Linked DNA regions of Homo sapiens: region 2 is linked to region 1. Evidence: fine-mapped expression QTL. A gene starts in region 1. The other region holds a variant in brackets. All regions are shown on one strand. Distances are from middle to middle.

Region 1 (2,921 bases):
ACAAGGAAACTGAGTCTGGGAAAGGTTAAGTGCCCTGCCTAAAGTCCCCAGTGAACCTGTGACTTCTGTCTCTATTTCAGAAGCATTTCTAATGAATCCCTACCTCCTAGTGCTCCTCCATAGAGAGTTATTGTGGAAGCCACCATGTAAATATCCATCTTCATATTTGTTTTCAATGTGTAAACATTTAAATCTGATGGTGAGCCTCACTCAAACTTGGGCATAAAAAGGGGAGACAATAATTGATATGGCTTAAATCATTTACATGGGGTCACCTGGATTTATGATGTTCAGGGAGACCACAGTAAGGCAGCACTGGCAGAACCTCCCAGTAGCCCAGCAGTAGAAGTAATTAGTAAACCTACCTCATGTCAGACTTTTGCAGTCTGGGGTAAGGTTTGTAGGGGTGTGATCTGAATCACAACAAACAGGAGTCTATTTAAGAATTCATGCCTGGGAGTAATTATGGTCATTATGGAATGCCTTCTCCAGACTGTGCTATGAGAAGTAATACAAGGCCCTCCAGGCTTGAAAGGTGGCTCCATCACTCTCTGGTCCTGTCAACTCTGCCAAGTTACTTACCTTCTCTGAGCCTTAGTTTCCTCATCTGTAACATGGGGATAATAATAGTACTTACCTATGTCACAGAGTTTATAGGATGACTGAATGAGTTCATACTAGATAAACTCTATGAATTTGCTGATATTAACCTGTTTTTTTGTTTTTTGTTTTTTGGTTTTTTTTGAGACAGAGTCTTGCTCTGTCACCCAGGCTGGAGTGCAGTGGTGCAATCTTGGCTCACTGCAAACTCTGCCTGCCAGGTCCGAGCAATTCTCCTGCCTCAGCCTCCTGAGTAGCTGGGATTACAGGTGCGCAGGACCACGCCCGGCTAATTTTTGTATTTTTAGTAGAGACAGGGTTGGCCAGGCTGGTCTCGAACTCCTGACCTCGTGATCCACCTGCCTCGGCCTCCTAAAGTGCTGGGATTACAGGTGTGAGCCACCGTGCCTGGCCGATATTGACCTGTTCTTGACCTACAATAATGGCAGTTCCATTTGGCCCAACCTAATACATGTAAAGTGTTTAGAAAGATGCTGCTGGCACACAGTAAATTCCCAACAAATACCAGTGATGATATCATGTGCCAGGATTATGCTAAATGCTTTACATGTATTCTATCATTTAGTCTTTGAAACAATGTCCTGTGACAATTGTTATTATTCCAAGTTTATTAGTTGAGAAATGTTGTCTCAGACCCTTTAAAGCATCTTGCTCAGTTAATATGCGGAGGGCTGGAATCGAACTCAGGCCATTTTTGCTACAAAGCTCAAGCTCTTAATCACTCTGGTGTAGTGCAAGGTTAAATTGGGACACTGCTTGAATTCTTCCTGAGGCTTTCAGATGCAAGGCTTTCCTCCAGAGCAGTAGCTCTCAAAGTGCAATCCCTGTCCCAGCAGTGTCAGTATTACCAGGGAACTGATTAGAAATGCAAATGCTTGGGCTCCACCCCAGACCTACTGAATCAGGAACCTTAAGGGTGGGGTCCAGCATTGTGGTTTAATAAGCCCTCCCTGCAATTGTGATGTATGCTAAGAAGGTTTGAGAACCACTTCTCTGGAGACACTGACTCATACTTCGTTGGTAGTCATCATTAGGCTCAATGATTATAACAGTAAATGACTAAAGCAGTTTTGAACTCACCATCTGATTCAGATCCATGAGTGGTATGGGACCCCCCACTGGGGTGGAATGTGTCTTGGTCTCCTGTAATGAGCAATCAGGAAGGTCAGTACTGCATGTTTTCACTTACACTCCCATCTGCATTTCTTTACCTTTGCATTCTTATACAGCCTATCACAAAGTTTAGTCTTTTTAAGGTATTCCAAAAAATGATGGCAAAACAGCCTTGAATGGGTCCACAATGTTAATTACCGTTCATTGCTTAATCCACTGATAAATGAGCTAGAACTTTAATAAGAATTAAGGAAACTGGGGCAGCAAAGGCTAAGAAGGATGACCACAGGAAGTTTTGTAGAAACTTTGTTTTGGTAGAAATCCAAGAACTGTGGTAAGGAACATGCTAACAAAAATATTGTGATATCTTTGCAGGTATGAGGTTGAGACTAGACATTGTACATTTTAAATAAGGACAATATGAATTGGATTATGAGAAACATAATCACTGCAAATGGGCATACTCTGGCTTAGGGCATGAAACAGAGATTTCTTGGCGGCAGGAAATTAGTATGCAATAAGGAATCTTGGGATTGAATGATGTAAAGATTCAAAGAGAAAGGTCAACTACTTATTTTCAAAAAAAATTGAAAATAAGTAAAAAAGGAAATGGTGAGATGATAGCTAACATTAATAATGTGTATTGGAATATGGGTATTATAGTAAGTTTAAAATAATTTTTTAAAGTTAAATCTGTAGTTTCAACATGACTAGTTAATATAATCCTAGCTTCTCAAACATCTATCACCAGAAAGCTTTAGATTAAGACAACCTCATGAATTGCTAGAATCTAAATCCATAGGTCAAATCTTGAATGCAGCATATTAAAACTCTCTCCCCCACCCACATTTTTCAAAAGCATACTGGAATCTTTTTTTTTTTTTAATCACAGGACAATGCTTACATAAAATGGCTACAGTTATCCATTATGAAGGCACCTTATAAGGAATCTATAGTAACCTGATCGTCACCATTTCCTTGATTAGAGAAGGTGGAAGCGGGTGACACTTAGTCACCTGTGTAACTATATTGAAGAGACAGATTGCTTTGTTCCTTGGCTGATGGTTAAAACAAATGAAAACAACATTTGCTGAAATGCCACACCAATACTCCCACTACCAAAATCACCATGACCGTCACCATCCCATCACCATCATTATCACCATCACCATCACCATCACCACCAC
Region 2 (2,921 bases), 560 kb after region 1:
TACTAGCCCCTGAGGCTCAGGAAGTGGTTGGTTCAGCTTTATTCTTAGTTGGAATTTTTTGCCGTAAGTCAAAGACCCAAGTGGAAGGATGGAAGGATGGAAGGATGGAAGGATGGAAGGATGGAAGGATGGAAGGATGTGGGAGATGACACTGTAGGAAGTCGCAGAGGAACTCAGAGTGTGACTTGGGAGGTTTCCTCAGCCCTGAACCCCATGGTCTTGACTGAGTGGCAATGATTGCCACAGAAATTTTACCCCGGTTGGCTCAGTTCCCCCAGAATAGCAAATACACAGCCAAGCCTTGCCAGTGTTTGATCTATTCCCTAATTTTAACAAATACCTCAAGTGACACATAATGCTAAGGACCACTGGGGGAAGGAGAAGTCGAGAGCTATGCTGGCCTCAGCTCTTAATCTCAATTCCAGAAGCATTTACATTGGCTCCCAGCCCCATCTCATTTAAGGGGCTTGACCCAAACAAAACCTCAAACCAAAACCTTTCATTATTTCAGTTCTCAAAAGCAAAAACAAAAACAGAAAAAAAGAGGAAGGAAGGGTTGCAGACTAATTTCTTTCACAAAGACCCAATTAAATCCCATTTCTGAAGTTGCTCCAAATTTAATTCCAGGAGAGAGGCACTATCACTTGTGACTGATGTCTAAGTGCCATTTCATAGACCCAAAGAGATCCACAAGTTCATACTCAGATCACGGGAAACCATAAGATCCTCTTTCAACCATTTCCCACACTGTACACGCCAATGCACCTATTTGTAGGTGGGGGTGGTAATCTGAAATCCCCTCTCCCAGACTCCCAACATCCCAAACTTCTCACCCAGTGTAACCTTGGTTAAGGAGCATGGATAGCCCCAGTTGCATCCAAGCTTAACCAAATGCAGCTAAAGTGAACGTAACTCATAAAATGCAGGTGCTCTGACTGATTAGAGAGCACTGATGAGTCATCGGAATTAGACTTAAAAACTGACAAAATAGTGTAACTGTGGGGATTCTGGAAGTTTCCAATGGCTACCCCTTCACCCAGAAACTATCACTACAGGTTCACGGACCTTTGAATTTTACTATGAGGTATTCTTTCTCTAAAGCCAAATGTAGTTTGTTGAAAATTAAATATAGCCTTATTTCCCATAAGTATACCCAAATATGAATAATTTTAGCAGCTATATTGCAAGAGTAAGTTTTCATTGAAAATAAAGAAAAGCCTAAACAACTTTTATTGTCACAACAGAGTGACTAGTTTCGTAGGAGACCAACATTTTGCCTAGAGGATCCCTACGGGTCATCTTCGATGTACAAATATTGCCTCAAAAGCAAACCTCGTCTAATGGTAACCCCATCCCTTTCCTAGCCCTTTAATTAGAAAGACTCCAGAAAGGCAGAAATGTAGAGTGTTGGTAATTCCCACTGATTCTCCCTAAGCATTAGGCATACCCAGCCTCAGATGTGATGACAGCTTACCAACAGGAAGGTGACTGGTGGTTGTCATGGAGATCTGAGCCCGGCAGAAAGTTTTGCTGTCCAACAAATCTGTGGCCATGAAAAGATAAAGGACATTTAGAGCACCCCCTCCCCCCACCTCACAATAGAACACTGTGGCTCTTAGACAAACTGAATAAGAATGTAAAGGGCCTTAAGTGTCAGGGAGTTAGTTACCTACTGTGCTACCATAGTTGGTGTCATATAAATAGTTCTCGTCTTTCCAGGTGTTCATGATGGAAGGCTCTACAAAAAATAGAGAAGGAGAATAGTCAGCGATCTCTTTTCCCCAGGGAGAAGAGGCTG[C/T]GTTTTCTAATTCATTGTTCATCAACAAAGTATGGGGGGTGAGGAGTGGTCCTCAGAGACAAGGGATATGATTCTGCTTCAGCTGCGTTACTTTATAATAATGTTGTCTAATTTTCCTTTCAGCATCCTCGGGGAAATGGCCTCATCCATGTGTTCTGTACCTATTGCATTTTTAGGGAAGTGAGAGAAGTTGCAAGAATGGGAACCTGTCCTAGACCAAGTGGTTCCTGGGAATTTTCCTAACCTGGCTTGGCTTTGTTCTGCATTCTACTGCATAATCACCAGAATATTTTTACCCTAGAGTGTGGTGGGGGGGAAGGCCTTGTTAGGGATTAATTTATTTAAATGTATAATAAATAATTAATGAGGCCTTGGGGGGTTAATGATATTTCTTTCAGGAAGAGTCTTGTCAATCTTATCACAGTTTCTTCCTTGCTGAAATCCAGAGATTTGTCATCCAAGTTGGGTGACAGCCCCCTCCCTCTAGGATTTTTCCAATTAGCTTAAAGGATGACATAAAATTCTCAAAACAAAACCAAGGAGAAGGGGTGGACTGTGTTACTAAATCAAACAAACACCTTTTAAGAGTGAAGCCCCACTGCCCCATCGCAGAAAAGAAGTGCTCTTGTACTCTGTCTCTCTTTCTCTTTCTTCTGTGTGCTGCGGTAAACACCTCTCACTTTGACTGACTCTTCAGATTTCAGATTCAAAGGGAACTCCCCTCCACCTACCCCAAATGGAGCTCAACTCCTACGCAACCCCCAGATCTGGGCTGGTCTCCAACAGAAGCATTTTGTTTCTTGGCTAGCCAAAAGCTGTAAGATCTCTCACCTCGTCCTCACCAGAAACTTCCTGCTTTCTCCTCACCGCAGACCTAGGTTACCCTCAGCTCCCCTCCTTGCTGGGTTCTGAGTTTTAGGGCCGGGGTGTAAGCCACTGACTGAGTTTCATTTTGTTTTTATAGCACAAATGATACAAAACCTGACTTACTGGCTAAGTCCTCGTGTTTACGACATAGGGATTTAGCCGGTATTTTAGCTAATAGCTACATGTTTGGACACCCCAAGCCCAATCTCTTGGGGTTACACCCTCTCTCCTTGTTGGGTCACCTTGTACACCTGTT

Evidence for each region. PIP is the estimated chance that this variant, and not a neighbour inherited with it, causes the effect.
Region 2: its variant is fine-mapped to the expression of CD44-AS1 in monocytes after LPS (Quach 2016, PIP 0.95).

Annotation. Positions count from the first base shown.
Region 1 is chr11:35,213,695-35,216,615 of GRCh38, reverse strand. CD44-AS1 (CD44 antisense RNA 1) reads left to right here and starts at 1,606. Exons shown (of 2, transcript NR_174965.1): 1 at 1,606-1,785. CD44 (CD44 molecule (IN blood group)) reads right to left here. Exons shown (of 18, transcript NM_000610.4): 15 at 1,702-1,764. RefSeq lists an enhancer at 1,177-2,376.
Region 2 is chr11:34,650,359-34,653,279 of GRCh38, reverse strand. EHF (ETS homologous factor) reads right to left here. Exons shown (of 9, transcript NM_012153.6): 5 at 1,670-1,738; 6 at 1,475-1,543. Among named protein-coding and RNA genes, the nearest start is that of EHF, 31 kb to the right of the region's middle. RefSeq lists an enhancer at 2,387-2,636. The variant C/T (reference allele first, on the strand shown) is at 1,799.